Homo sapiens: one gene and its partner. The protein of the gene in region 1 interacts with the protein of each later gene in a pairwise test. Each region holds a gene or a part of one and is shown on either strand. Other genes may lie near its edges.

Region 1 (15,836 bases):
GATGAGATAATGCCAAAAACTTTCCAAAGTTGACAAAAAGACGTCAAGCTACAGATTCAGGGTGTAGGATAAGTAAGCCCGCTCCGAGCATATATCATGGAAAAATTGCTGAGAAACAGACACAAAGAAAATGTCAAAAACAACCAGAGGAAAACGTGCATTATTTTCACAGAAGCAATGGGAAGACAGACAACTAATGTTTTTACATAAATTATAAGATTCAGAAGACAATGCAGTGGGAAGATGCAGAAGAGAATAACCGCTAACCTTGCATCCTATAACCAGTGAAACGTTCCTTCAAGAATGAAAGTGAAACAAAAAGTGAGAAAATTTCTCAGGCCCACATGAAAAGAACCGCTAAGCTGAGGTCTTCTAGTCCCAGAGAGAAGAATGCAAATTTAGGAAATATTAAAGTGCAAAGATGTAGGTGATTAAAGAGTATATAAAACAATAACATTATGTCTTAAGAGGTTTTATATATATGACAAGAATCCTTCAAAAGGGACAATGGAGCAAATGGAGTGAAAGGTCCTCATGCCTGCCTGAAAGCAGTCAGTAAATGTACTACATTATAAAAGATTTTAATAAGTTCAAGGGGCATGTTAGGCCGGGCGCGGTGGTTCACGCCTGTAATCCCAGTACTTTGGGAGGCCAAGGCAGGCAGATTGCTTGAGTCCAGGAGTTTGTGACCAGCCTAGGCAACATGGCAAAACCCTGTCTCTATAAAAAATACAAAAATTAGCTGGGCATGGAAGTGCATGCCTGTAGTCCCAGCTACTCAGGAGGCTGAGGTGGGAAGATGGTTTGAGCCCGGGAGGTTGAGGCTACAGTGAGATGAGCTCATGCCACCGTACTCCAGCCTGGGAGGCAGGGTGAGACCCTGACTCAAAAAAAAAAAAAAAAAAAGATGTGATATCTAGGGTAACCAGGAGAAAATAGTAAATGTACATGTACGTATTGGGTTAACAGAGGGAAAAACATAAATATACTTAATAAATCTAAAAAATTAAGAGAAAAGGAATACAAGAGAGGTGGGACAACCTGGAAAAAACTGCAAATGGCAGGTTCAAATACAAATATGATTATCACACTAAATAATACAATTAAATCACAGTAAATATTTTGGTTAAAAGATAAAGATTATCAAAGTAAAATAGTTACATTGTGATTATAAGAGATATTCCTTAAACATAAGGACCCAGAAAAGTAGAAAAAAGATGGTCCAAGAAAAACTGTGTAATGAAGCAAAGCTGAGGTAAAAATCATTAAATAAATTAATATGTGCCAGATTAGACTCTGGGGCAAGGAGCATTGCTAATAAAGCATATTTTATAATGTCTTAGAATTGACATACCAGGAAGATACAAATATTCTCAATTTTGGGTACCTAATAACATACACATTTTATTTTATTCACATGTTTGCATGTATATATTTACATATATGGGTGTGTGTAGACAGAAAAGATTAAATGGTAATAAATAATTGTTGCAAAGGTTTAATGCTGCGTTCATTGCCTTTTCAATGTCAGGTCATGTAAAACCAAAGCAATCAGTACTAGGGACTCTTGTGTGGATGAGGCAAGACCTCCCTCTTGGGGATGAGTTTCTACAGTAGATTAAGAGACTTCTAGAAGACAGAGGGAGGAGGAAAGATGGCAATAAATAATTGTTGCAAAGTTTTAATACTATTCACACAGCTCCTACAGCTTCCAAGAAATTACCTAACAAACAATGTAACAGGAAGAAATGAGACAAAAGATTATCTGCTGGCGCTACTAAGAGCATCTTTCTGAAAAGCTAAGTAAAGCCATGCCAGCTTTCTCCTATGTAGACCCAAGTTATAAGATTTATTCATTTTTTTCAAGAAAGTGTATCTGTGTAGGTAAAGATGTAAGAAGGTCCTAGGTTAATTCAAAATAACAACCCAGCTCTGCCTTTCCATGGTTGATATGAAGATGCTGTTTGTAGTAGATGGTAAAAGGGCCCTGTCAACTTCAGCCCTCAGACCCTCTTATCCTCTAAAAGGGGATCCGGTGTCCTGTGTCCTCCTCTGGAGGAAGGCAGAGCACACACACGGGATGCCTTGTTTTAGAATGAATGTCAACATGGAGACCCTGGAGTCATAAAGAGTTACCTCCCCACTGTCCCTAACTCTATCCCGGTTATCATTTCTGTATAGTGGGCAATGAATCAGTGCCGACAACACTCAAATGGCGTTTCGATTGCATTACAATCCTATGGCTATTTGGGGCAGAAACACATCACTTGCACTCCACTTGAGACCGGCCCCGAGGCCATCACTGCCACCTTCCTGTCAGGTCTGGCTCCCCAGCCTCCTATAAGAATAGTACCTAAGACGTATCCTTAATGACTCTAGAATCCGTGTATCACTGGATGCAAAGTGCTTCCCTGCAAAGTGGCTGGGACAAGAGGAATGCATTCAGAACTCACGGCAGCTTCCAGGTGGCTCTAGGGAGGGCAGCAAAGCATGGTAGTGAGGAAAGGGGTTCTGGGGCCAGAATGTCAGGGCTCTGACCCTGCTCTGCCACATCGTGGCAGCTACAGCTTGGGCCTCAGTTTTGTCATCCACAAAATGAGGATGATAATATGCATGTCACTGAGCTGTCACAAACAGTAAAGTGATAAAGAATGCCTGGCCCATAGCAAATGCTCAAAAAAATCTTAATATTATGTAACACATCATTGTTAACACTGACAACAATAAAGTCAGTTCGTTTTGCATTAGTCACTCTGCCCACATCCTTTCCTGTGGCTCGTTATGTTAGCGCAACAAAGGAGAGACACCCAAGAAACAGTGGTTAAGAACCTGATACTTGGATTTATTATATATTACCCAAAGTAATAGAATTCATAGCTTCTTGGAGTATACTACCACTTTCCTTTTTCATTTCCTTTTTTTTTTGCCTTTTCCAAAACAGATGATTCATTTGCAGATTAAAATTTCAACCATATACAGACAGCTTCAAAAGATCACCCCTGGCCGCTGCCCCTATCTGCACAGCTGCCTCTCCCATCTCCTCTCCCTACTAAGCAACCTCTTTCTTCTCTCCTGCAGCTCACACAATGTTCATGAGCATACCATCAAATACAAATATTCCAATTTTTCCTGTTCCCTTCACACAAATGTAGCCTTCTCTCTATATACTGTTCTGTACTTTGCTTTTTAATTGTTAGTAATTTTTCCGCAACAGGACACAAAGAGCAATCTCATTCTTTCTGGAGGTCCATGCAGAATACTGCCCTCAATGGATGTCACCTATGTGACCAGTTCCCACTGATGACCCTTACACTGAAAACCGGCTTACACAGGAGTGGTCTATGATCTATGATGTATTAACATGGACATTTCCTCTTCCATTATGAATTTGTAAAGTTTTGATTTCCATAATTCTTTTTTTAATCAGTGAAAACATAAAATAAGGTTCTGGGAGAGAGATACAGGAAGCCAATCTGTGGAACTTTTGGTTTGGGCCCCAGCATCCTATAAAAATGGCACTAGGATGTATCCTTAATGTCTCTGGAATCTGTGGATTACTGGGTGCAAAATGCTACCTGCCAAGTGGATGGGACAACAGGACTACATTCAGAATTGGATCTGCAGCACCTCCAGGAAAGTTTTGAGCTATGCTTCCTTCAGTTCCTCCATCTCCTTAATTGACTTCACCTTGAGTCTCTGGACCAGCTCAAAGGCCACTACAGTTCAACGAAGGCTGGGAGTTTTTGTAAAGAAATCCCTAGACCATTGTATCCATTGGCTCCAGTTGACTAAACGAACATCTCCTATGGAGACCCCTGGACTTTAGCCAAGCTCACCTGGGCCAGCTAACTTACAACTCACAAGGACTCTGTAGACTTAATTCCAGACATGTGGGATATGGTATATGTGCACAGAAACACTGTGGGAAATCCAAAGTGACTACAGTAAACAGCCCTATGAAATCACTCTGGCAACTGGCATGAAATTGCTGTCAAGGGCATTACTCTATATGCAGTACCACGTGATAAATTTCCTTTAGAACTTACAGTCAGGAGGTACTGTCTCTGCTGAGGAGCTTCAGTCAACTGTATAATTCATCATGTTTACTTCATGGCCCTGGCTTTTTGGGAACCTGAGAGTTGGTTCAGTCGTGAAAATAATTAACACCTCATGTACTATTTCCTTTCTCCCTGGTCCTGATTTTTCGAATCCTATTCTTCTAATCTAGTGGTCTCAACCAGGGGCAATTCCCCATCCTCTGGCTTCAGGGCACATTTGGCAACATTTAGAGACATTTTTGGTTGTCTCAACTGGCCGGGCGTGCGACTGGCATCTAGCAGGCAGAGACCAGGTATGCCACACATCTAAGTGGCCTGCAATGCTTGGATGTCCCCCAGACCCCCGACAAAGAATTATTCTACCCAAAATGTCAGTAGTACTGAGTCCGGAAAACCTAGCTCTACCCTGTTTAATATTAGGCCCTCTGTTAAAAGCTCCTGAGATCTTGTTTAGAAAGATGCTTAACTACATTTGATAAATAAAATATTGTGACAGAACAGCGGAAAAGTTACGAGCATTTTCCTGCCAGAATAGACATCAAGTCCAGAGGCCAATTTTCCACGAAGAGATGTGCACTCAACACAAACCGCAAGATGTCACATACCTTGAGGAGTCTGAACGCTGTCATCCAGCACGTCCTGGTTTGCTCGTCCTCTGCACAGAGCAACCTCAGCTCTTTAGTTTCATTCCTGACTTTGTTTGGCTACAGGAGGTAAAAGAAAGTCCTGTTAGTGTTACACAGGGAGTCAGAAACAGCTTCTGTCAAGGCAGGGCTGCATCTGACACAAACCAGAGACAACCAGCTGGAGATCCCCCTAGCAAGGAGCACAGCAGATACACACACACCTGTGTGTTAAGCGTTCATTCATCCACCTTCCTGACAAGACTTTATTAAGTGCCTACCATGGACTGGCCCCAGGTTGTGTACCACTTAGCTGAATAATAAGCCATCCTTTGGGAACTTCAGAGGAGACAGAAAAACAAACTAGCACAGGACAACGTAATGTGGTAAGCACAATAGGACAAAGAGGAAGAGGCATCTAACTCTGTCGACGGACTGGATTCTATGGGAGGAGAACCTGCCTTCTGACTTACAGGAGGAGAGATCTTAAAGTTGCCCCCAGGCCACTGAGAGGAGGGGCTGCTGCAGGGCTTAGCCAAGAGGGGCAACCCCTGAGGAGCTCAGGGATTCTGATGTCTGAGCAGCCCCAAGATCAGACCCCAAGTAGAAGGTCCAGAGAGGGAGACTGATGTTGGCTCTGGAGAATGAGACAGAAGGGGAAGTAGGCACCATGGGGAGAAGACAGGTGCCCCTCCAGAGGCAGGGCCCTTTGGTGAGGGAGGAGAATTGTTGCAGGCATAAACTGACCTGCATCTCCAGAAGAACCCCCGACCTCAGACTCAAGAAACAATGCTGGACACACCCCAGCTCTCCCTCCCAAGAATCTGGAGGGGTTGAGGGACAGGTGTGACTACCCTGCGCTCGGCTGGTGCTATGAGAGAAGCAGAGACTGCGTTTGCAGAGACAGGCAAGCATGGCTGGTGTGGGCTGGTGGGAAGGGAGAGTGCCAGCTGCTGCTCATACCTCCAGCCCCGCCTGAGGCTGCCTTGGGCCTCTAGCTGGTGTGAATTAGACGCCTATTACTTATAACCGAAAGAGTATTCCCTGAGCAAGGTATGAGGTGATATTTTGGAAAGAAATTTTCCCCTAAGGAGGGGCTCCCCGTATTGTGTGTTCTCGGGATGTGGCTTGGGCTATGGCTCATAAGTCAGCCTACAGGGCAAACTCCAAGCACAACTATTCACTGGCTACTGGATGTGGGCAATGTGGCCAACTTCCTATCCCACAAGGGGCTGTGAAGATTAAGATAATGGATGTAAAACTGTCAGTGGAACATATCATGCACAGTAAGCATTCAGTAAATATCATCTACCATTATGATTATTAATACCACCACAACCTCATCAGGGGAAAAGGAGTGGGCTCTGCCTATAGGTGTGTGCACATGTGTATGTGTGTCTATGTACATGTGTGTATAATGTATGTGTATGCACAAAGGTGTATGTCTATACCTGTGTGTATGCACAAAGGTGTATGTCTATACATGTATGTATGCACGTGTGGGTATGTGCATGTAGATGTGTGTGCACACGTGTGTGTGCATGCCAGCACACACATGCATGCAGAGGGTGGGCAGCATTGTGTCTATTCCTGTCTGACCATCCCCACAGCCAGAGGCCCACACAGAAGCCATCAGCTCACTCAGTACCATGCAGGCAACCCAGGTGACAGGCTGGGGGTCCCCTCCCTTGCCCCACCTCCCCTTCCAGCTACTAGTACTGGGCTACAGCCACAGCCCACCCTTTGATGCCAAAAGCCACCCTCCCTAAAACACTGAGCCCACTAGCCACATTATCCATCCCTGTCTGCTTGTCCTTGAGCTTCTGAGCTACTCAAGGACTGATAGCAGCAAGTGTACAATAAATGTTTTTACAGGAATGGATAAATCCAGTGTGAAACTATGTTTCTGTTGAAGACAATAGAAGCAACAATCAAGTGCTGGGCAAGAGAAGAAGTCAGTCTCCTGTGGGCTGCTGAGCATGCGCGCCGTCTGTGGACAGCTCGTGGGTACCTTTATGCAGAGCCCGTGGTCTGTAGGGGCGTTGTACTGCTTCCTGCCAGCGATCAGGGAGAAGATGTTGCTGTCCTCCAGGTCGGCCAGCAGCTGCAGGTGTCTGGGTTCCTGTGACAACACTGGCCAGGTTAAAGTCTCAAGCACAGCAAAGAGCAAATGTGTTCACCTCTGGTAGACAGAGGGCAGTCTCTGCACACTTACAAGCACTTTCCCCGATGACACTATACATATTACATATGATTATTACGCGAGGTGTAATAAGTGCTAAACTAAAACCAAATTCACCCAGTCTCACCCAAAACACCCACTTCCCCAGTTCTCAGACACACAAGGCTGTTGGAACGTATTTGATACTTCTGGCAAATCAAAGCCCCATGACCGGATATTCAAGATAAAAAGCAGGAGAAAATCTATAACCCAAAGGTCAGAGTTAAGAGCACAGGGCCTGTCTGCCTTTGGTTTGTTGTGAGTCCAGAGTCCAACCGTACTTTGGGTTTTCCCACTGGTAGCTTGCTTGTCCCACCCTTCTCCTCCTCAACTCTCCAGCCCAGCTCTGTTTCCTGCTCTACGAAATACCCTCCCAACTTCAGCACACACGAGGACAGTGAGCGGGCCACACAGCAGAGCTGGGAGGTCAGGAAGCTACCATGCCCTGTGTCAGTTCAAAGCCCCTCTCTGCAGACGCCCCTTCTCTCTGGCCCAGGTGTCGGCAGCTGCTGACTTCCCAGAGCCGGCCCCAACACCTTCCCAGAGCCGGTTCCCAGATGCTCAACACCTGTGCTGGGGTCCCGCCAGCTCCCTTTCACCTCTGCTGGCCAGAGCAAAAGAGACCACAGCCCTCAGATGGTAAGTGCTCAGCCAGGTATTGGGTGGACAAGGCTCCTGCCACAGGGTATATGTGGACAGCACAAGAAGAGAGCAGACAAGAGTGTACATGGGAGCAAAGGAGCCTCCGGCCTAAGCTCTCTTTTGAGGGCCTGCAGCTGTTTTCCATCTCCCACCTTCTTCTCACTGGGGATACATGCAAGCCTGCAGTTTATTTCATGAAATATCTATGATACATAAAGTTACACTGGCATTAGGGTGGCAATAGTCTATCAAACATCTTTACAGCTAGCTTAAATCCCAACTTATGAGAACTAGGCCAGTCTCTGAAGTGATGGGGCAGCCAGGGGTGTCTGCTCCCAACCCGCAGTGGGGGTGGGGCTAGGCAGGTGGGGTTCTTAGGCCTGTATTATTTATTACCTAGTTTCTGAGCGAGACCAGGAAACCTGTGACTCCAAGTTCAGCTGCTGCACAATTAGCTTATTAAGAAGTTGTCCTGAGCTTGGAGGAGTCTAAGGTGCATTTAAAAATGAAGCCCAGGTTCACTCTGAGGACCTGGGGGGAGTGACTGTGGCAGAATTAGGGCTGGTGGTGGTAGCTTTTAAAGCTCACCTTTGAAGTTCCCTTGGTGGAGCAATAAAGGCCAGATCTCCGCAAACACACATACAGCTTTTTCCATGATTTCTTTCCCAGCTCTTTCACATGCAAAAACCCTTGAATTTCAGGACAACTACTGGAGTTCAGAAAATTCTGTTGAAGAACAAATTTTTAAAATCACATAATGCTAATCTAAAATAATTAAAGCAGACATGTTATCAGCATAGCTGACATTTTCTGAATTATTAAAAGACTCCTTTTTGGATCAAAATGAGAGTGTTCTCCTTTCCAAAGTCTTAAAATCCCATCTCAATTCGTGTTGCATAGAACATAATTCGTATTTAAACATATGCAAGCAAATGGACCTTTCCAACACTGGTGATAACACGAGTCATGAATTTCCCTATAAGATAGTGCACTGAAGGATCCAGTCTGATATCAGACTGAGGGCAAGAGCAAGTGCCATGACCAAGTGATTGGGACTCTGGAGACTGACAGTGAGTATGTAGTGGCCACTTTTACCCAGGCACCCCTCCAGTCAAGGGTCACATAAAAGGTGTCATGTGTCCGCAAGTGATGCACCCAGGTGCAGGACATCCTGGTGATGTCCCCCTGTTCCAGCTAACTCTTCCCACAGGCAGCCTTAAGAATAAAGGCTTTATCAAAACAAAACAAAACAAGAAACTACGCTTTTCATCAAAGGGAAGACAGGCCAAGGGCCAGGTCATGGAGCGAAGTTGGGGAGGTGATGCTGGCAGGTCCTGCTACTAGACTGGGAGGGGACAAAGCTCTTTTCCCCCAGGTGGGAAAGGCACGTCGGACAGAGCCCTGGTGCACCTGGGTCAGTCCTTCTTGAGTCTCAAGAGATCACTGCACATCTTCACAAAGCGCATGGATCCTCTCAAAGTCAAGGCAATTAAAACAGAATCTGCTATTTCACTGTTCACTGTGTATAGGTGGTAACTTAGTGCTGACACCTCTCGCCAGAACAGACACATGCTATGGTCAGAAGGGCTTCTGAAGACACCACCAGAACAGAGCTCTGAAACTCTTATCTTTTAGATGCTGAAACAAATTTGGTGATAACAACGTAGAAAAAGGGCTTATGAGGAGAATTCTGTAGGAACTACATTTTAGTAGTTTCTCTTACATGTAATGTCACCTGGATCTTGTTGGTGGCCTTAGGAAATGGTTTATTCTCTCACTTTTAACATGTACACAGGCACATTTTTAGGGTGTAGCTGTAACATTCCCATTCCCCACTCCCAGCTTCCCCGGAGGAGTGTGTGTGAGAGCTGGGCACAGAGGCCCTGGTGGCTCCCTCCACTGGAAGAGGAGGTGGGGAGAGACCAGGTTTTCTTAGAACAGACTTTATGAATCAGGACAATTAAAGCAGGTTTCTTTATTTGTAATATATGGCAAGTTACTTTTAAAAGTCTGTTGTGGTAACCCGATCATCTTTTACTATAGACTCTGTGCTTCTGCAGAGATTTCCAAGCAGCTAGGCGGTGGCCTGACCTGGGACCCCTGCTCAGAAAGGAGCTGGGGAGGGAGCCCTGAGACTGGGGTTTCTCCATGCACCCCCTGGCCCACACTCAGCAGTGGCATCACTGGACTCTTCTAAGTCAGAGCAAGGGCATCGTGTAAGTGCCTGTTTGGCTTAGAAGGAACCCAGCTACACACAGATTTTCCAAGGAAACTTTTAATTTCTGGTTACTCTAAACCCTCCCCCCAACCACCCCTCCGGCTTAAGAGCCAAGGTTATAAATGGTGAAAGATGCGATCTCTTTAGGTTTTTTACAATGCTGCCATTCAGTTCCAAGAGGATTTCTATTCAGAAAGTCTATTTCAGCAGAGATCTATTGTGGCCCAGTACCTGCAAAAGCTGGGTTTGACTGCCATTTGACTGCTGGCACCAAGTAACCATCTGTTCTGGGAAGAAATTCTAAGAAAATGGGAAAAAACAAATACGTAAAAGGTTAGCTTCAAAGTGAGGGAAGGTATGTCATATAGATATGTCAATTTTAAAACTATTCCTACCAGTATAATTACATACACCTGTATTTAAAATGGCGGTCCTTTTTATTCTCCTATCACACAGAAGAAACACCTCCTTCAAAAGGTTGTATTTTGTTTCCTGAAATGCTGGGTACTAGTGTGGAATACCAACTATGTTTACTAAGGGATTCATGTCTCACAGCATGCTCCATGGCAAAGAGCGATGCCAGCGTCCCAGCCCAGTGGCACAAGTGCACAGCGTGAGATAAAGAATTCCTGAAACTAAAAGGTAAGCCCAGTCACGAGAAAAGCCTGTTCTGCTGCATTCCCCAAAAACAGTCTTCAAATTTCTTACTTTGGAATAAAAAAGCAGCTACATTATCAGAGTCAGAAATGGCCCTGGGTCTTCTCCCCAGTTGATGCAGCTCTGACCCATGACTCAGGATGACAGCGAGTGCCCCAGGAGCTAGGAGGTGCCCTCCCTATCCTGGCCTCTCACAGGACAAGTGCCTCTCCCAAAGAAAGAAAAGAGAGATCAAGGTGACCAGCTCAAGACACCAACCAATCGCACTGATTTCTCTAGTCATTCTTCCACGTATGATCACAAAATATATTTGCTATTTGCAGAGAATAATGAGTTTTTCTTCTGCTAAGTGTTTGATCAGTTCAACTGAGAACTTTCAAAATAACAGAAAACACCCAGCCTCTCCCAGCTCCTGTCTTAGAGACTAACCCCCTTTACACTGTGTCTATGTGAAGAAGGAGACCTCTACCTTCAGCCAGTCCCACGCACATTTAGTGAAGCATGAGACTGGGTTTCAAGCAAGGACTGCTTCATTAAACTACAACTCTGATTCTCAAACCCATATGCTACACCATGCCTCTCAGTCACTTTCTAATCTGATACTATGAAACCCAAGTATAAACTTCAAGATTTCAAGAGTCCCAAACCCCAAACCTGAAGAGGTAAGACTCACCATGGGATTTTTAAAGAACTCGTATTTTGCGTAATTCTTCCTGAATAGAAATTTACTCTCACTGGCCATGGTACTCTCCACCTGGACCACCAGCTCATGGTCTTCCAAGCACCTCTCTGCAGGGGCAAAGCATCACGTGTGAGACGCAACAGGTGGGAAATTCATGGTAGCTTTACAACCAAATGGAAGATTTGTTCAACTTTCTATTCTTCTTTAAACATTATGAATAAAGATGAGGTCAGGAAGGAAACTAAATTTAAATCTCTCTTTAATGCATTACCAAATGCATAAGAGGTCTTAAGATATACAGCATGAAGAATTCAGGTCAATACTTATTTTTATATACTTTTTGAATTTGGCATCAACCAGATGTTAAGGAATGAGCCCGTAAGACTCTTAGCAAATGATTTTGCCCTTAAATTGAGAAATTTCAACTCTTGTAAAGACTATAACAAGTGAGACAATATTCAAAGACAAAGGAGAAAGAACTTGAAAGAGGTGGAGGAGGGGGATGACCAAGAAGGTGCAGAGATGGAAGGAGATAGAAGCTTTTTGATGACATCAAACTTGGTTGCCAGAAAAGATGGTGCTGTGTACTGTGGGAGAGGCCGTGATGCACAGCAAGACTGTACGTACATACTCATCTTTCACACTGAAGCCCGCACGCACATCATGGAATAGTTCTTGTCAACCGAATTACACGTGAAGGCAGGGAAGAAAACACACTCCATCCTCCAGCACCCGCTGTGGACACGTACACACACACACATGCACGTACGCACACGCCTCCTTCACAGCATCTTACATAGCAGCACTGTCCCCCAGAAAGGGAAAAGTCGCTTCCCTCACTGTGTGAACACAGTGGTTCCAAGTGGAGCGGGAAGAACTCAGCATACTCTAGAACAGCGTGTGCCCAGAGAGGCCGCACTGCTCCCTTTCATGGCAGTTACGTCCCTTCCCAGGCACCTCCTCAGAAACTGTCATGGGAGGATGGTGGCCATGGGAAACTAACCTTATTAAATCATGGAATAAACAAGATGAACAAATGTACAGCAGGGTCAAAGTGTGAAGTGATGCCAAAATGGTACAGATTAACATGCTATGGAATTGACACCAGGGTAGTTCTGTTATCCTAAGACCCTACCCTCCTCTCCTGCAGCCAGACTGGAATCTTGAGGAAAGTTTCATCTTGGAAGGAAGGAATGAAGTTAAAGGCAAAAGCATTTCTGAGTCAAAGTGATCTCAGAATGCAGAAAAGACTTTCCGTCTACAACGAACAACTGTCGCCATGGGCACTCATCTCAGATGAGCCCCGACCGGCATGCAGAAGCAAATTCTGGAGCTGATTCGTGCTCGGCCCCGGTTTTGACATTACAAGGAAAGGATTCCTTGGTAAAAACACATTTAAAGCCAGAGTTTGTGAAGGAAAGGAATTTTCTCCCCGTGGCTGCCAGAAAGCTCAGACTTGGCACCACCACCAAGTGTGGAGCAGTTCCCATTTGTCCCTGTCTGGGAGGGAATGCTGCTAGCAACATGTGAACCAATACGTGGCCCTCATGTCTCCCCATGATAGAAAAAGAGAGAAACCAAGAACATGCAACAAAAACTGTTACGTTTGCTTTCCAAAAAGAGGTTCATTCATTGAAAATGGATTTTCCAGAAGGAAAACAAATCAATGACTTCTGTTGAAATGTTTATTCAGAGAAAAATGTCTTTCTGTAGTTACAGGAAAAAACAAAAACAAAAACCCAAAACCAAAACCAACAATCTAATAACCTGTTGATGGTTGATTTACAGAACTAAAAATTTTTATCAGGCAAAATAAGGAGAAATAAAAATGGGAGGTGATAGCTACCTAAATGAGGAGGATATGTCTGTTTCCAAAGCGAAGGGCATTTTGTCTCCAAAGAACCCTGAGGAGAGCCAAAGAGGATGCCTGGGGCAGCCACCAGCCCCAAAGGGGGTGGCCAAACCCACGCAGGCGCCCATCCTTGTGGACAATACTTTCCTGTCTCCCTGCGCCTCCCCTGGAAAGATCATGGGAAAGTTGCACATGGCAGTGTAAACACACAGGGGGACGTGTCCCTGGTGGTCAGATCCAGGTGGACAGGTGAGGGCTTGGTGCCCTGGCAAAGGGGGGCCCAGGAACTCGGGATAACCGGTGGGCTGTGAAACTGACTGTGTATCCTGACAGAAGTGTGCTTTTCTGAGGCTGGTGACTCCAGAGGGCGCCTACCATCCCCAGAGGTGGGTCCCAAGACAAACAAAACATCAACTCCCTTTTCGTCACTCACAGCAGGTCAGTGAACACAACGTGGCAGGTGACCCCTTTCTCAGAGATCCAGAGCTGTGCAGCCTCCGGATGCAGCTGAGTGCCCCTGGCACAAATGCTCCAGGCACCAGTGTTCCAGTTGGCCATCGACTGCACATCTGTTCAAAGATCTTCCCTCCAGTTTTAATTTTCTCCATGATTTAAAGATATGTATTTTCAAATGACCTTGCATGATTATAAACAATCACATCACTATCTATAAACTGCATATGATTACAATGGCCTAAGTTAAATGGGAACACTACTTTTCAAGATAATATTCCAAAAATAATTTCAAGAAATGGAAAGGGCAAAAATTCCTTGAAGTACATTTGTATTTTTCAAATTTCTGAAACTAATGCTGGCATTACTCTACTCCTCAAGAAAAAATATTTAAATATCAAGACAACTCAAAAAAGAGAATCTTACTTCCTTGCCTTAACCCTTGCAGCTAAAGTGTGACTCCTCGGCAGAAACCTGTGCTGCCAGTTGGCAGTGGAGGGGCCATGGCAGAGCCGGTGCACGGAAGCTGTGCACCCCACTGTCTCGGCCTCACATCGAGCTGCAGCCCTTGGGCCACTCCCTGCCCATCATTCCTCAGCACAGCCCACCCAAGGGAGAGAAAAGAGCTGTCAGCAAGCTCAGGGCTTTCCCAGGCTAAGAAACTGTCAACAGAGTAATCAGTGAGATAGCCCTGACGTGTGGATAAGGCCGTAAGTGGACTTCTATTTATAAATTTTAGTGGGGGAAAGGACATCTTTTGTTGCTTTTCACATACAAAAGGGAGAGAGGGACATAAAACCAGCCTGCAAAAGGCCCCCTCTAATCAGCAAGAGTCAACAGGCGCCGGCTGTTTCTCCCTCCACACCTTTCTGCATGTCCAGCTGTCAGCATCCAACAGCGTGGCAGCCACAGGACCTCCAGAGTTACTGCCACGGTGTTTCCCATCTGACCAGGAACAACCACAAAGCTGTAAACAGCCCGAAAAGGACTTGTTGCTCTTCCTGTTTCAACCTAATTCTCAGGACAACGGAATTCCTCAAATCCTTGAAATTTGTAAGATCTGGCGGAAACCCTCTTCTCTTTACTGTGTTCTCTGTGTAAGTTCCAGCCTCTCTCCCAGATTATCTGACCTTAGTATGCCTGATGTCTACAGTTACTTGGGGCCTGGGTGCAAGAGCCCCAGGCACCAGGTGCCCCCCACATTCCCAGGGATGGGTTTATCTGCAATCCCATTTTCAAGTTCAGGGGGCATCAAGATACTAGTTTTGTATGTTTAAATTTGTATTTTTCAAAATTCCTTTTATCTTTTTTTTTTTTTTAATTTTTGAGGCAGGGTCTTGTTCTGTCAAGCAGCTGGAGTGCAGTGATGCAAACACAGCTCTCTGCAGCCTCAACTTCCTGGGCTCAGGTGATCCTCCTGCCTTGGCCTTCCAAAGTGCTGGGACTACAGGCATGAGCCACTGTGCCTGGCCAAAAATATCTTTTAAAATATAATTTGTTTACTTGATATGTCTGCAGGCTGACTGTTTAATATCACTGCATCCTCCATGTGTGAAGCTGCCCTGGCTAAGGTGAACCTTCCAGAGACTTGCAGCTCACCATGCTCGGGGCAGAAGGGATGGGGACACCTTCCAAAAAACCTGCCCCATTCTGGCAGCCTCAGCTGGACTTACTGTCGGCTGTTGAGTGGCCTGGGTCAGGGACAGTGTTTTCATGGCTAAGAACTCCACTCCAGACACTGAGACTGAGAAACATCCCCAACAGGTAGAACCTGGGGGCAGTGCTAACATAGGAAGGGACCATTTAAAGGGACAAGTGAACTGGGAATCATAAAACAGACCATCATTCACTAGGGCTTCACCTACCAGGGCAAGGGGCTTTGCAACAACTTTTTCAAGTGCGTCCAGTAGTGAATGTCCCCAGGAGCTAACGCTGGGAAGGGCCACCTGACCTCAGTCTGCTCATAGGAGTCGTTCTCTGCTTATCCACAAGCGCAGCACAGAGCGGGCAGGAAAAACCACCCTCAGCGAGAGGGGCTACTCTGCCGAGTGACAGCAGGGATGCCACTGTTGCTGCCAATGGAGGGTGACCAGCATCTCAGAGGAGCGATGCCCTCCAGGCTGCAGACACCCACGCATGGTGCTTTTCTCCCGCAGAAAGGGAACCACCTGCTGCAGGCTATCTTGGGAACTACCCTCACTTTTTCTAAAGCCATCACTTCCTTCTGGGTATAGAAAAGGTTTAATATTATTAAGGGACTGATATTTTAGCTGTTAAGATCCTTATACAGGTTGAATATCCCTTATCCTAAATGCCTGGGACCAGAAGCTTTGGTTTTTGGATTTTTTTTCAAATTTTGGAACATTTGCATTATAGTTACCAGTTGAACAATCCAAAATCCCAAAATCAGAAATGCTTCAATGAGCATTT
Region 2 (15,836 bases), on another chromosome or scaffold:
TTGGTTTAACAACCATTTGTTGAGTGTCTCCAGGTTCTATGCAACCATAATGCTTGGGTGCTGGGAACACAGAGAGGAAGTGAAGCCAACTCCCATCCTGCAGAAGCTCACATTGCATCAGGACAGTCGCTCTATCAGCAGAGATGGATATACCAGTGAATAACTTCTCTATACTACACCACACTATGCTGTACTACACTACACTACGCTACACTACACTACACTACACTATGCCACTGCTTTGTTGGTCAAAGGATTAGAAAAGCAGAAAAAGTGTTGTGACTAAATACTATAGTTCCTCCATCTTATAATTACCAAGCCCAATTATTATTAACAAATATCTCTCTTTGCTCTAATATATGTTTAATAGCTTGTTGCCCAGGAACTAGACATAGAATCAAAATAATTTCCTTCATTCACTAACGCTCCAAATATTGGAATACTGGCATAAGGAATATAAGCAATTAAGTAAGACAAGGATTTGGGGTTATATCTATGAGAGGGGAAAGAATGACACCCCAGATGATTTATTTACTGCATTCATGCAATCACAAATGCCCAGTGAATGCTGATTTCACATTGAGGCCGCTGGCATAATGCATCAGGCATTAATTGCACGAACATTTCTTTAGAGCTGCTTAGCTGAAGTTTATCACGATCATTCAGCCATTGCCTAGCAACTTGTGGAGGCTATCAAAGAGCTCTTTGTTCTCAGTCGTGGCAAAAACAGTCCCTTACAGATCTCCTTATCAGCATTAGAACATTTATCAGAAAAGAAATGCTCCCATTGAACCAGAGATGGCTGCAGATTTAAACCTACCCCCTTCCCACGTTGCCCCTTCTTCCCAATATTTTAGAAGTTATTTCCTGAACTATTAAAGTTTCTATCTGTTTTTTGCTAAAACTTCTGAAGGAATTTCCTTAAGATGTCATATAATTCCTTTATGGCCTAATAATCTGGGCTTACATGTAAAAACACAGACCTGAGCCCCTAAATGTGTATCTGCTCAAGAATAAGCAAGGCAGACATCTCCACCTCCTTAGCAGGGAAGGGTCACCATTTTTGATATACAACCTATAAATATGTTGGGCTTCCTGGTTTGAGTGAAGACTTATTCAGGAAAGCAAAGAATGCTGTGGTTGCTCCATCCCATTGGAAAGTGGTCCTGAATATCATACAGGAAATAGGAATTATGTGTATCGATTCATTCAACAAATAAATTTATTTAACACCTCCCATGTGCTAGGTGCTATGGTGAGCAAAAACAGGCATTGTCTCTCCCTCAGGGAGCTGCCAGAATTAATTACCTTTGGTGGAGAATTGGAGGGGAGTCTTCATCTGCATTTTCTTCTATATCTCTCCAGAATTCCTCTTCCCCGCATCTCTGCTGACATTGACTTAGTTTCATGCCTTGTCACTTTGATCATTTTTTTTATTTGGGGAACCCCAAATGGGGGTTCTGCAGGTAAAAGAGCACCTGACAGGTTTTCTTTCTTCCCAGGCTCAACATCTTCTGGCCATCTTCTGCCCTCCTATAAAGCACAAATTTAGTTGTGCCCCTTCCTTCTTAAAATTGTTCATTTGGTCCCTGTTAACACCAGGGGGAGGTTCACACTCTATAGCATGGCGCTCTTGGCTCAACTCAACTTGGCCACTGCTTGGCTGCCCAGATGTCTCACCTGCTCTCCCCAGCCCCTGAGTTTTAGCTGTACCCAACACTTGCAATTCCCAAAGGACAGACACTTCTTTGGGCCTCTGAGCCTTGCCACCACTGTTCCCTTAGCCTGCAGTCCTCTTCCCCCTTCACAAGCTACCTCCCTTCCTGATCATGATCCCCAGGCAGAGCAGGGTGTGCCTGTTCTGTGGTCATTATCACCCTGGGGTTACATTTTTAAGAAAACTTCTCACAGCAAACCAGTAGCTGGCCAGATCCCTTGAATGTTTGCTGAGTTGGGTTTCCTTTTCTGCCTTTGACAAACAAAGAAACAAAAAGATGTTTTGTAGGACCCTAGCAAAGCTGGCAAAAAATAAGAGGAGATAAATATAAATAATACACATGTACCCACACAGAGCCAGAAATAATGGTTAAAGCAAAACTTACAACTCTTCATCCTGGAGAATATTTCATTGCAGGGTTATCCTTACATGGAAGTCACATCAGCAGTCATATACCTGGTGCGACTTAGAGAAACACTTACCCAACACTCTCTTAGTGATACTTACTGCCTGAAATTCCACAATTAGATATTTATTTCTTAGGCTCTTAGAATGCATGCTCTCTTAGAATATCAATATTCTCCAGAGAAGGTACTACTCAGCAATAATAAATGTATCTTGTCCTTTTCTGACTGTAAGATGAAGGGAAAAATAACTAGGAGGGCACAGAGGGCCAGAAGGGGAGAAGCAGCAATAGGAGAAGAGGGTACAGCAAGAGGAGGAAAGACAACTCCACACCTTTCCCTGGAATTGCCCCCTAACTGAGACATACTTGATATTTATCTTCACATAGATTAGGCATTAGTATCTGCAAAATGCTGACTCATTTTTTACTGATGACAGAGTAAATAAAAGGGCTTGAATTTTTAAGAGGGTGTTGGTAATAGAATTTTTATAATTTATATTCAAAGGAAACATTTCTTTGCAATTCTAAACTAAAAGTTATTTTCAAGTAAGCTTGGGTCTGTTGAAAGATGCTTATATGATTGGACACAGAAGGTTTGATCAATGATCTATAGAATTTGCTATGATTCTCTGGAAATGAAATGATGGGTAAACCATATGAAACAAGCTTATCTCTGCAGTGGATCTTCTTGCTATAGGGTGGGCCTTGTTACTTATACAAACATTACCAGGATATAGTTGATTATGACTGATGGCTAGGCTAATCAGCTGAACAAACCTCTTAAGGGAAGAAGAATAAGTTATGAAAGAGAGGATCTCTTTATTCAGATTTGCCTATCTGGCCTGTAGTCATTTTTCTTACCATGCTCTGATTGAGAATAGGCTAAGCTATACATAAATCATGATAACCTATGATATAAAAAAGCAGCAAATACTTTTGACCTAAAGTGTACTCCATTCCATCTTAACTGAATTTATTAAGTGCAATTTGAAGTAGTGATTTGGCAAGTAGTTGATAAACTAAGTCATCATAAATGGCTAAATCTTACCTGTCCCCCAAGTCCCCACCCTAACAAAAAAGCATAAAAAATCGGGACTGCTTTTTCAGGATGATGATCAGTCAGATTAACAGGATAATTACTCAGTTTCCACTTCTTCAAAATCTTCGTTGGGATTTGTCTTGATGGCATCAGACCAAAATGCCCTGGGTTGATTGTCTAAGTCTCTGTGATAAGCAGGTGTCCCCATCTTAGCTGTTGTTAAGCAGGAGTCTTGGCTCACGGTCAGAGTCTAGGACCTGAATTTGAACTGAGAGCGAAGTGTTTAGCAGGTTACCCTTGTTGGTACTTTCTTTAAATTCTCAAAACAAAGTTTAGGTTTGCAGCCTCATTTTGAAGTGGTTTACTGCTTAATATGTTTGATGCTTCTGCCCAGTATAGGTGTGGATATAAATTCCAGGTAAGATTCTGTGGCTGATGTATCACATCTGGTGAGGGTAGAGTTTGCAATTTCATCTCAGATTTTCAAAAGAGATTTGAAAAAAAAATAATATATTTATGATTGCAAGAAAAAAATCAACATAGTAGGCCCAGATTTCATACTTTATTCTATGGGAAACATTTAAACCCCAATTGGTTTATGAACAGACCTGGTCTCCTTTCTTCAGCCCATGGTCCGAATGAAATAAAAGTCTATTGTTGGGTCAAGCTAGACACAATGAGGTCTGCATGCTTTCTTGCCTATTTAATGGCCTTTACCACGTGGGAGACTTTCAGAAGGAAAAAAACAGGAACAGTAAAAAGTGGATCTTCTTGCTATTCCAGTGTTCACCGGAAATGGTGTACCAATTAACAACATTCACATTATAGTTTGGGACTGCTTCCATGTTAAGGTTCAGACTGTGGTGACTTTTTGCCTGATTACTTTAGAAGCCAAAACTGTAACACAAGACATGACCGTCTCAGCATCGTGGTACTGGGTGGTTGTTAGTATTCTGGAATCCTGGAGGGTCTGCGTGCTTGCTCTTAATGTGTTTTCATTTGGTCTGAGGCCAGCAACTGCCAGTTCACTACTAATTATAACTTATTGCCTTTCAATGTGAAGAACATTTCTTTGAGTTGTGAGGAATTCTGGCAAGAAAGAGGCCCCTGTTGTATTTCCAATACGAATGTACAGAAGAGACTTTTATTTATCTCAAATAAAACCTGGTTTTAGTTTTATTTTTGCAAACTTAGCTTTCCTTTCTGTTTCCTTTTGTCATTTTTTTTAATTCTAAAGTTTCTCAGTATTTAAAATTAGAGTTAAACAACTGCATACAGTTTCATAATAATCGATAGCATAGACAACAGCTACAAATAATGTCAGTTGTGATATTCTGCCAATATCTCTCCAATGTCAGGTAAGATTTTTAAGGAGGAATTTGGTGGCACGTGTCAGTGCATCTTTCTGTTCTGCACAATGCACCATCAAGTTATTTTAAGATTATGTTTATTTGTTTCATCCAGGGGAGGGTTTTCTTTATGTAAAACATTTTATGGAACTGTTCATTGCCTTATCCTTTTACACTTTATTTCTCTGTGAAAACAAAGAATGGGAGGAGGAGGAGGAAGTCACCAAGGGCTAAAAGATATCGTATTGTTGATAAATTTTACTTGCAATAGACAGAGCCCTTGGGCTTCCACTTTATTGCCTCCTCCTGAAGAAGAAAAATCAATATAACAAAAGTTTGTTATTCGTTCTTCATGACTCCATAGAAAATCGGTCTGGGTATTATTTTAATGTTATGATACTGTGTATTGATGTTTATAAGATGGTAACTCTCCATTCATTGCTGCTGGTGATCCTCAGGTTTAACACTGTGAGCTTAGTCCTCATCTATGAATTAGCATCTGCGGAAACTCCGCACTGCCTCTCACTCAGCCTTGCCCCATGTGCATTATTTCAGGTGTCCACTGTGACAGCGTGTGTGCTGAGGGACGCTGGGGCCCCAACTGCTCCCTGCCCTGCTACTGTAAAAATGGGGCTTCATGCTCCCCTGATGATGGCATCTGCGAGTGTGCACCAGGCTTCCGAGGCACCACTTGTCAGAGGAGTAAGTGTCTCATTAGGCAGTAATTTCCACCTTCCCTTCCCTGGGCACCATGTATCGAATAATGATCTCTGTCCCACCTCTCAGTTTATAGTGATGTCCTGTTGCAGTTGAAGGCAAAAGAGAGTGTAATGGTTCACTTGTCCTTTGCAGAACTGTGTTCCCTAAGAGCTTCATTCTTTCCAGCCTTCAGAACTAACCTAACAGATGGGGATTTAACCATTTCTTCTCAATAATTACTTCATTGCCTCATTGGCACAACCATCAGGATATATTTCTTCACCCTTCCTGAAAGCTTTGGAATGGTGTTCTAGAAATTCACTGACCTGTAAATATGTTATTCAGCAGTTTGGCATTGGCCTTACCTCAATTACCAGACGTCAACATCAGCCAAACCTTGAGGCAAATCATTCATCCTGCTAGTAGTCTTAAAATCAGTGCTATGGGGAAAATGGAATTGCAAAGTTGAAAAAGGAGACTGTTGACATTGGTCCTTAAGACTTCTGAGTTAGAAGATTAAGTAATCTTTTAGTAAATGCAATCAAAAAAGAATATGTAACTAATTATAAGTTATACTATTCTAATTTTTTAAATTGCCTTTCCCCCCATAAGAATTCTATGCAGTTATCATATATTTAAATCTGAATAGTATCTTGGCAAGAACTTAAGTATATAGCATTTTGGTTAATCACTTTTCGATTACAGTCATTAACCTGGACCATTTTGAGGAGGAAAAATCTTCAAATTTTGACTGTTGATCGATTTTTATTGCCAGAAACGACTCTTAAAGAATAAAGAATCAACAAATGGTTTGAGAGTACTTATTTGAGACTTATTAGTATTTCAATTTTTTTATCTCTTTATTTATTCAATGAAAATTCCTGGAGCCCTGCTTTATGCCAAGACTTGAGCTAACTGGGGCCTTAAATGGGAAAATAAAGAAGACTAAGACATTTGCTTGCTCTCAAGAAACTCAGAGTTTAGTGGCTTCTTTTCCTCATTAAAGGGTTCCTTTGTTCCTTTGTTGTTCTTGTTTTCTACTTGGAAAATTCTCCGTATCTTTTTTACTTTTTTTTAAGGTTTTGCTTTTTAACCTCTAAAACTTTAACTAGATCCCGATCTGGAATGCGAGACAAACGCATCTCAGAAGGATAACTGCTGATTTCCCTTCTGTTTTCAGTCTGCTCCCCTGGTTTTTATGGGCATCGCTGCAGCCAGACATGCCCACAGTGCGTTCACAGCAGCGGGCCCTGCCACCACATCACCGGCCTGTGTGACTGCTTGCCTGGCTTCACAGGCGCCCTCTGCAATGAAGGTAAGGCACGAAGCATCCCGGACAGCTGGGTGGTGATGAGCACGCCCCGGAGAGTCTGTCCTCAGGCCTCCCCTTGGCCTTCCTGAAGGCCATGTTTTCAGCTGTCTGCTGGGAATGTCTTCTGCTGTGCTGTGTCTGCAGCTTCTCAGATAGGACTTTGAGCTTTGGAAAAGCTGGCTTGCCACTCCAGCAAAACCTTTTTATTTCCTGAGATGTGCTACTCTTCAGTTTTAGCTGGACATGTCCTCCCATAAAAAATCAATATGCGGAAGAATTTTAGACTCCCAGAGCAAGAAGTCGTGAAGTCATATTTCTAGAAGTGCAATGATGTCCCCTGGTTTGTGATGCCTTAATGCAAATCTTTGGCTTCATGGATTTGTAAAAATGAGCCCATTCAAGATGAAGGATGCTGTTGAGCAGAGATAGCTACCAATGAGCAGCTGGGCCTGTGACCTTTAAAGTTATTTCCTGTGCTAAGATTCTAGGGTTCTGCGAGAGGGGTTTTGATTGTGAGTTACTGACCTATAGCTTATTCACAGTGTGTCCCAGTGGCAGATTTGGGAAAAACTGTGCAGGAATTTGTACCTGCACCAACAACGGAACCTGTAACCCCATTGACAGATCTTGTCAGTGTTACCCCGGTTGGATTGGCAGTGACTGCTCTCAACGTAAGTCTTGTTTGAGAACAATTAATAAACTGTTCTTATTTGTTTGTTTTCAGATTCTTTAGGATTGAAGTATGAGTGTTTTTATATAATCAAGAAAGAATATATGACTAATTAAAAGACACATTCTACTTTAAATTCTTTTTTTAAAATTCTTTTTTTTTTTCCCATTACGACCTCTATGCAATGGTCCTATGTTTAAATCCAAATAATGTCTTGGAAAGAACCTAAATATGTAACATTTTCCTTATCCCCTTTTCAGTGATTCATCGTCCATTGAAATAAAGCAAAAACAGCTGTATTGAGAAATCTATCTCTTCATTTTGTGTTTATCTGGAGAGTTAATTACAGAGAAAGAAAAAATGGAATTAAATGATGTGAGCCTTAGAAACCTATTGGGAACCTGAGCGAACTGCCCACCTAATATGCTTAGCTTCACCTTGGCATCACCCAAGTGCCTTCCACACCACTGGATTTCAGACAGGAATTGTGTGACCCTATAAGGGACTATATAGATGACTCTTAGAGCACCCATGTCATGAAAAAAATGACATCGACTATAAGTCATTCATGAATGTTTTGAAAGGGTCAGTGCAATGTCTAAAAGTATTCAACTTTTGACCAAAAAATAGCATATGTATGGAGTAATCTGGTTTCATTCATTTTAAATTTTATGAAACACTCTCAGTTTATATTGAATTCCCCCATCATGCACATAAGAGAAATCAAAGAATGACTGTGTGCAGTCATTTTACATGGTGCTTTATTGATAATTTAATTCAAACTTCACAGTTACAAGCAACCTGCAAATACTAATTGATGAGCAATATATTTTTTGCTGGAAGATTTTTTTCTGAATGTTAATTTTTTCCATAAGTAGTCCAGGCTGTACCCCATTTTTTAGGAATAAGGGAAGAGAGCTAATAAATCTCAGAAGTGTAGCTCTTTGGTGAAAGAAGTGTTATGCGATATGATTTCACTCCATTCTGGGGGCATCACTTCAGAAGAAATCAGTCTGTTTAAATCTACATGTGTTGCAAGGGCTCTGACTGATGGTTGGGCGTATGGGTTTGGGAAGAGTAAAAGGTCCAATATCATTGTCACAAAATGATTGATTTATATTGCTCCTTTAAAAAGTAGTCTTTATTTTGGAAATTTGTCCCTTCCTCATTTGGAGGAGGAATGTGCTGAAAGGAATAAAAATAGAAACACAACTATGAATGGAGACTATAGTGTTGCCTGTCCCAATAATCACTCCACAGGAAGCTGACTTATTTGGCAAAAGCCTTTGCTTCTCCTGGGGATCATTGATTTCATTGATTCCCTTATGGACTCTGTGGAACCATCTTCATATTTCTTCTTAGCTGATTGTGAGCCTGTCTAAAGAGAGCAAAGTCCTTCACAGTGAAAACACAGACTTTGAAAACTTAAAGGGGTACATTTAAAGGGGCAGGTGTCCTTGGGAAAATGATTTTTTAAAGCACTATCTCTACGTTTACCTTTTGGGAATATAAAGTTGAGTGATGCTTATTCCCATTCTCTGATCATAACAAATATAGGGAGAAAAACCTAATGGCAGTGGGTTACCTCAGAAAAATATATTGTGAACATAAATGGGTTTACAGAAGCTGGTTAAATATCATCTAAGGAATAGGTTGTTTTAGGTAAAGAGTGCTTCACTGAGCATCAAATGGGCTAGACGCTTCAACAGTTTTCACTGAGTCTCACTGTGGCTTTGGGAAAGCTGTATTTGTCTAACAAATAACAAATATTATTATTAATCTATGTGACCTTGTACGAGTCACTATTAACCTTTTGTGTGCTCAGTTTCTTCATCTGTAAAATTAAGGTGTTGTATTTAGAAAATTTGTTCCAATGCTCACTCGAGACCTCAAGTGTCAGCTAGTATTTTCCCCTTGCTCTTGGACATGGTGCACACAATTATGGAAGAATTTTTTTCATTTAAAAAGTTACTTCATATGTATTATTGATTGTCTTTATAGGTCCACATTCCCTATGGGGTAGCCGTATAGAAATTACAGGTGGTCCTCCTTTTATGCAATTATGTTCCTAAAGTATTAATATGAATAAAAAGTATTTTTTGTCAATGAAATTATTTTACCCCCTGATCTTATGCTATTATTTCACAGATACTTTATCTGACTTTCTGATGTCTCTTCAATCGGCAGTGACCCCTAATGATTTAATTGTATTATTTTCTGGATCTTCCAGTTAAGAGTTTTTACAAGGAAACCAATTTTTACATACCGCTGGGAACCTCAATATTTAAAAGGAGCCTGAAGTGGCAACTCTAGAGTAGACTGAAGGGTACAGGATTTAGAAATTGTGAACATGAGCTACATGGCCTTGGGTCCTTTAACCTCTCTTGAGTCAAGTCATTTTCCACACCTTATCTCTGCTCAAATGTCCTCTCCTCACAGAGGCCTTCCTCAGAGGAGTAGCTCCCAAAATTATTGTCTTCCTTATCCTCCTTATGTTTTTTCATAATACCTACCACCATTGATTTTTCATTTTGTTGGTTGGTTGGTTGGTTTGCCTGCCTCCCCTACCAAAATAGAAGCTTCCAGAGGATGGTTTGGACTTTGTCTTATACTCTGCTATCTCCCTTGGGCCTGGAACAGTGTTGGGTACATAATAGGTGTTGAATATGTGTTTGTTTAATAACTGAATCTGTAAACTTGAGGTGATTTTTGCCCCAGCCACCTCACTCTGCAGTTGTAAATGAATACATATGTCAATAATGACAGTCGTTGTTGAAGTTGCCATGGCCATCTGGGATTTAGTGCAGAATTCAGAGCAGTGTGCTTTCTTAGTCCTGATGTACACTGCTAACCTCTCACATGCAGGGAGATGTGTAGAGGTGGATGGAATTCTCCCTACTTAGTATTGGCCTCAGAACTCTGATGGACTTCTCCATACCTGTAATTTCAGCATGTCCACCTGCCCACTGGGGCCCAAACTGCATCCACACGTGCAACTGCCATAATGGAGCTTTCTGCAGCGCCTACGATGGGGAATGTAAATGCACTCCTGGCTGGACAGGGCTCTACTGCACTCAGAGTAAGTGACAAGCCTTCTGAGGCTCACCAAGGGGAGCCTTGTCCAAGGAGGAAACAGCCTTACCCTCCGCATGCGTGACTGGAGCTCAACAAAGGTCCCTGAGGTTGGAGTACTTCCCTCTCCTAATGACCTGTAGACATATAAATTTCTCTAAGTGATTAAGAGCTACTTCATTCCAAGTATTCTGTCTCTAGGTTCTATCTCCACTGAGGTAGAGCAATGCTGTGTGATGGTATGCAGTTTATTTCTCTTCTCTCCTTTAACCAAATCATATTTATATGGATCAAATTCTCAATCCTTTAACAGCACAAAAGTTAGGATAAGTATAGAGATTAGAAAGGTAGAGAAGACAACAAGCCTCACTGCCTGATTTAATGTGCGCTCTTGGAAAAGGTGGAGTTCCGTGTTTTTCGAATGGTAGCAAGCTTCAGAATCACCTGGAGGACACAACAAACACAGAAGCTAGTTCCATCCCCAGAAAGCCGGAAGCAGCGAGTCTGGGCTGGCACCTGAGAATTGCCATTTTTATCAACTGGTAGTAATGCCAGGCTGGGACCATGCTTTGAGAGCCACTGCCCTAGTTCTTTTCCCCATTTTGTAATTCATAGCATCCTAACCATTTTTTCTTCCATTAGGCTTTTAGCATGATAGGATATAGTGTGCAAAGTACTTACTCCAAAGCTGAGCATCATTGGGGAAGGAAGATCATTCTCTGACCTCTTACCTTCGGTTGAATAAAGGAGACAAGAAAGGAAGGCATGTGTTATGGTTAAGTACTAATAATAGCGTATATTTTAAAATAATAGCAAGAAGCTGAGGAGGACAGATGGGTCTGAAATTGAGCAATTCTTATTTAATACTAATTAGAGTACATAATTAAAGAATAGGCTGAAAAAGTCTTAGAAACTTTCTAGAAGATAATGTAGACCTTGAACCAAGAGTTGAAAAGGATAATTGGCAAGGAAGGTAGCTGGCCCAAGCATATTCTTCAGAGTTCGTATATCTATAAATATTGTTTAACTTCTTAGAGAAAGGTACTTGTAAGATATTATTTATAATTCTAAAATTAGAACGTGCTTCAAAGAGAGAACCCTTTTTCAAGTGCAAGTAACATGATATAGTGGGAACAACATGGGGTCCAGAGCCAGACCTCCCTGTGTTTGAATCATGGCCCTGCCGTCCTGCCAGTTGCCAGCTGTGTGACTTAGGGTACTTGGGGCTTAGTTCCTGTCTACAAGACGGGAATATCCATCCCTGCATTTCTGGCCTGCTGTAAAGATTAAACAAGAGAACGCATGAAAAGAATCTGGCACAGAGTAGGTGCTAAATAAATGCATGACAGCAGGGAGTCATCGGTGCATACTGGCATCTGGGCACTGCCTCTGCTTCTTGAAAGTTCCATAAGAAAATGAGAAAATGAAAAGCATATGTAATATTTGGAAACAATCATTGAATCAGCCTGCATTGAATCTTTCATCACGCCAGAGATCCCCAAGACACTCTTGCAGGGCAGCTGCCAGCCCATGTAAGCCAACAGAATTTGTGGGTGTCTTTAGCTCAAGAGACTCGCCGGTCTAAGCATTGAAAATCATGCAGCAGTGTGAAGGGTTATTGCTTTTTACAAAGCACCTGTGAAGTACAATTGTTTTTTAAGGTAAGCATTCTAGTACACCTCTTCAGGGAAGTTGATATTATCTAAGATAATAACAGATACAGTGGACAAGGCTAGTAGCAACAATAGAGATGTTCTGTACTACAAGTAAAAGCATACAGGTAATTTTAATATAAAGTACCCGTCTCAGTCCATTGGAATTTGAGTCCAGGATTCTAGTAGAAATGTGAAAGAATGAAAGGAAATGTCCTATTCTTCCAGGATTGAAGGGATATTTTGTTAGAAGGCACTAGTCTTGCCTCCAGGGGTACCAGTGATGGTTACACTGACAGGAATGGAACTCTTCTGCCTCCTGCTTATGAATTACAACCTCCTTGCAAGAGCCCTGTCTTGGGACTTCAAAGAAGCTCTTGTGGCAAGCTCAGATATGTACTATTCACTGTATTCTCTGATGGCTCAGTGTCATTCAAGTTTAAACACAAATATGTTGGAGGCACGAGCCTCCAAGTGTTTCTCTTCAGCAGCCTCTTGACTCCTACTGTCCTCCCTCCTCCCACAGGATGTCCTCTAGGGTTTTATGGAAAAGATTGTGCACTGATATGCCAATGTCAAAACGGAGCTGACTGCGACCACATTTCTGGGCAGTGTACTTGCCGCACTGGATTCATGGGACGGCACTGTGAGCAGAGTAAGTATGAGAGTGTGGCATCACTGGGTGGTATTTTTTTCCTCTAGAATCACATTTCCTAGATGCCAGGAAATATTAAGGCAGAATTCACCACTCCGAGGTTGTTTGAGCTGATGGCTGGTTACTTCTCAGCATGACTGACTTCCCCTCCCAGAGGTCAGGCCTCCCTGGGATCATCGCTGGTTACTCACTGCTCTGGGCGGAGGAGGTGTGACTACAAGAATGAAGACAGAATTCAAGTTTTCCATTCTGTTCTTTTGGGCTCTCCCTTCCTCTCCTTCTTATTTTTGGAATGTGGCTGCTCAGAGCCTTAAAAGATCCAGTCGAGCTTTCTTCATGGCAGAGGCAGAACCCGGGTCTCACATTGGAGGACAGTACATTCGGTGGGGAGGAGGGCTGGTGGCCCAGGGCCAATCCCTGTTGCTGGTGAGGGAACACATCCATGCAAACATTGCCACCCTTTCAACAACCTTCTCTAGATCGTACTTTTATACTGCTTCCATTAACAACTTCTCATCTTAGTCTTAACAACCTTCCAGACAACATACTGCCTTAAAATTTTGTTTAAGTCCCACTGGGGGAGAATATGCCGTTGGAATTACTCATCCTTATTTTTTTATTTCCACCCCACTAGCTATGCATCCCCTCACAGAGTTATAAAAACATTAGTCTTAATAAAATTGAATATTGCAAATTAGTTTATTATTCCTTTCCTCTATGACTTTCTTTCAGTATTCACGATAAATAAATAAGGGCTTAGGGCTGTATCAGACCCACTTTCTTATGATAAAACCTTTTGGGCGGGAAAAGGTGAAGAACAATTCCTGTTCACCAGAGGTTGTACTCTTGGGAAGGATCTGCCAAGATTATGGCCATAGGAGTGGTGTGGCCTGGAAAGATTGATCAGGATAGCAGGACTCTGACAATAAAGCACCCCTCCCCACCCCACTCCACTGGCACCTCACAGAGCCACTCTGAACCTGGTTGCCTCAATTTTATGTGCTAAACCCTAGGGTATTTTTGCATATCCTCTTTCTAGCAAATATAACAAAAGTGACGTCCAGGAATCAGCTCACAACAGAGACAGCCCAATTTTAGTTTTGCATCACTGTTTCATTGAGTCATGAAAACAGATCCTGACTGAGTGACACAGTTGCATACATAACTCTATTGTGCATATAAATATTGTGTGTTTGTGTATAAATGTCTAAATATGCATGGAAACCAGAATAGGCTCAAAATTTTACTTGAATGCCAGATGACTGGTTAAGGTCTTATTAAATAAGAAAACCTCTTAAGTGCTTCCATGATTACTCTCAACAGCAAATTAAAGTGTCCCTATTTTTGGAGACTTCTCCCAATGCTTATTTGTAAACAGAAACCCTGTGTTTGACAGAGAGTTCTAATAATAATAGCACATTGCCCCCTGCTGCTCACTTTATGAAAAATATCAATATTTTGTCACGAAGATTTTTAGATTTAACATGCTTACACTATCCTTTGAAATTCATGCCTAACTCTTATTAAGACCGCATAGTAAGAATCCTATTACTTTCGTCTTCAAGACTTCAACAAAATCCAGAGTTTGAATCACTCCATAGCAAATGAAGTTCTTACCTAGAAAATCAGCAAAACTTGTTGTTTGCATCTTCCCCTATTCCTGGCTAATTCAATTGAGAATGTGCGTTTATGAAGATCCCTGAGCCTACAGTAAAATATATATGTTCTCAAGAAAGCATCTTTAGTGCTCTTCAGTCTAGGCCCCTTCCAGCCTACAGTTTTGCCTGGTGGACTTGTATCAAATTGCCCTTAGTGATTATCTTCATCTGTTCCATGGGAATTCCACAGACTCTCCATATACACATCATAGAGGTAAGTATGTAGCAGCTGAAAGTGTCAGGAGCTCTAATGTTGAGCAGCCCTGTCTCTAGCCCTGTGCAGTCTGGACTGTGAGTGCCACCATGATTCCAGGAATGCTGTCCAGTTCTGGGACACTCTTGGGGGTACAAGTCAGCCTCAATAGGAATCCCCTGAAAGGACTCAGCTCTAGATGTGCAGGGCTTGCAGTCAGAGACAGCCTTGCTCCAAATTCCCAAGGTTGGAAAGCTACATTTGACTTTCCTTCTCTAGAGTGCCCTTCAGGAACATATGGCTATGGCTGTCGCCAGATATGTGATTGTCTGAACAACTCCACCTGCGACCACATCACTGGGACCTGTTACTGCAGCCCCGGATGGAAGGGAGCGAGATGTGATCAAGGTAAATATACTAGCTAATGTTTGTAGCACTGCAGTATTGTGTGAACACCATGTACCAGGCAATGTGAAGTATTTTCACTTATGTTATCCAGCAGAATCTTCACCACAACTCTAAATGGCATAATTGGTTACTTATTTAATTGCCAGATGAATGCCTTATTGTTGCTGTCCTGCAGATAAAGAAACAAAAGCTTAGAGAGGCTGAGTAATTTTCCCAAAGTCACATAGCTAATACTAGAATATGTCACAGCTTTTGTGCCAGATTTTTGTTATTCCAAAACTCATGAACTTTCTACTGGGTCTATGATTTTTTTTCAGCTTTATTGAGGTGTAATTGATACACAAAAAACACACCTATTTAATGTGTACAATTTAATAAAATCTCGACTATCTATATACCTATGAAACCATCACCATAATAAATGAAATATCCATCACCATGTGTTTCCTCATGCCCCTCCCTACTTCTACCACCCCTTAAGCCCCAGGTAATCACTCATCTCTTTTCTGTCAGTATAGATTAGTTTTCATTTTCTAGAATTTTATATAAATGAAATCATACTGTACTCTTTTGGGTCTGGCTTTGTTTACTCAGCATAATTATTTTGAAATGGAACCATGTTGTAGCACATATCAACAATTCAGTTCTTTTCATTGCTGAATACTATTCCATTGTATGGATATACTATAATTTGTTTACCTGTTCATGTGCTGATGGACAGGTGGATTGTTTCCAGTTTGGGGCTATTACAGATAAAGCTGCTATGAACAAGAGTGAATCCAGTTTTTGCATGGACATGTGCTTTCATTTCTCTTGGGTAAATACCTAGGAGTAGAATAATTGGGGTATATAGTAGACATATGTTTAACTTTTTGTAAAACTTGTGCCCCTGGTTTTCAATTGGGGTGTATGTCATAACGACCTGGGAATAGTTGTCAGGTACATGGTCCTATTTGGGAAATTCCGATTCCAGGGTTGGGGACTTTGAGAAAGTGCTTCTGATGGT

The links.
Region 2: the proteins of GRB10 (region 1) and MEGF10 interact in a two-hybrid assay, tested with the Homo sapiens proteins (one study listed by BioGRID and IntAct).

What each region holds. Positions count from the first base shown.
Region 1 is NC_000007.14:50,608,078-50,623,913, forward strand, and holds part of GRB10 (growth factor receptor-bound protein 10), read right to left. Parts: intron 11,209-15,836; coding exon 11,093-11,208; intron 10,063-11,092; coding exon 9,994-10,062; intron 8,271-9,993; coding exon 8,133-8,270; intron 6,804-8,132; coding exon 6,693-6,803; intron 4,763-6,692; coding exon 4,664-4,762; intron 1-4,663.
Region 2 is NC_000005.10:127,428,297-127,444,132, forward strand, and holds part of MEGF10 (multiple epidermal growth factor-like domains protein 10 isoform a precursor), read left to right. Parts: intron 1-5,066; coding exon 5,067-5,213; intron 5,214-6,390; coding exon 6,391-6,525; intron 6,526-7,064; coding exon 7,065-7,193; intron 7,194-10,142; coding exon 10,143-10,271; intron 10,272-12,442; coding exon 12,443-12,571; intron 12,572-14,701; coding exon 14,702-14,830; intron 14,831-15,836. UniProt on the Homo sapiens protein: Membrane receptor involved in phagocytosis by macrophages and astrocytes of apoptotic cells. Receptor for C1q, an eat-me signal, that binds phosphatidylserine expressed on the surface of apoptotic cells. Cooperates with ABCA1 within the process of engulfment.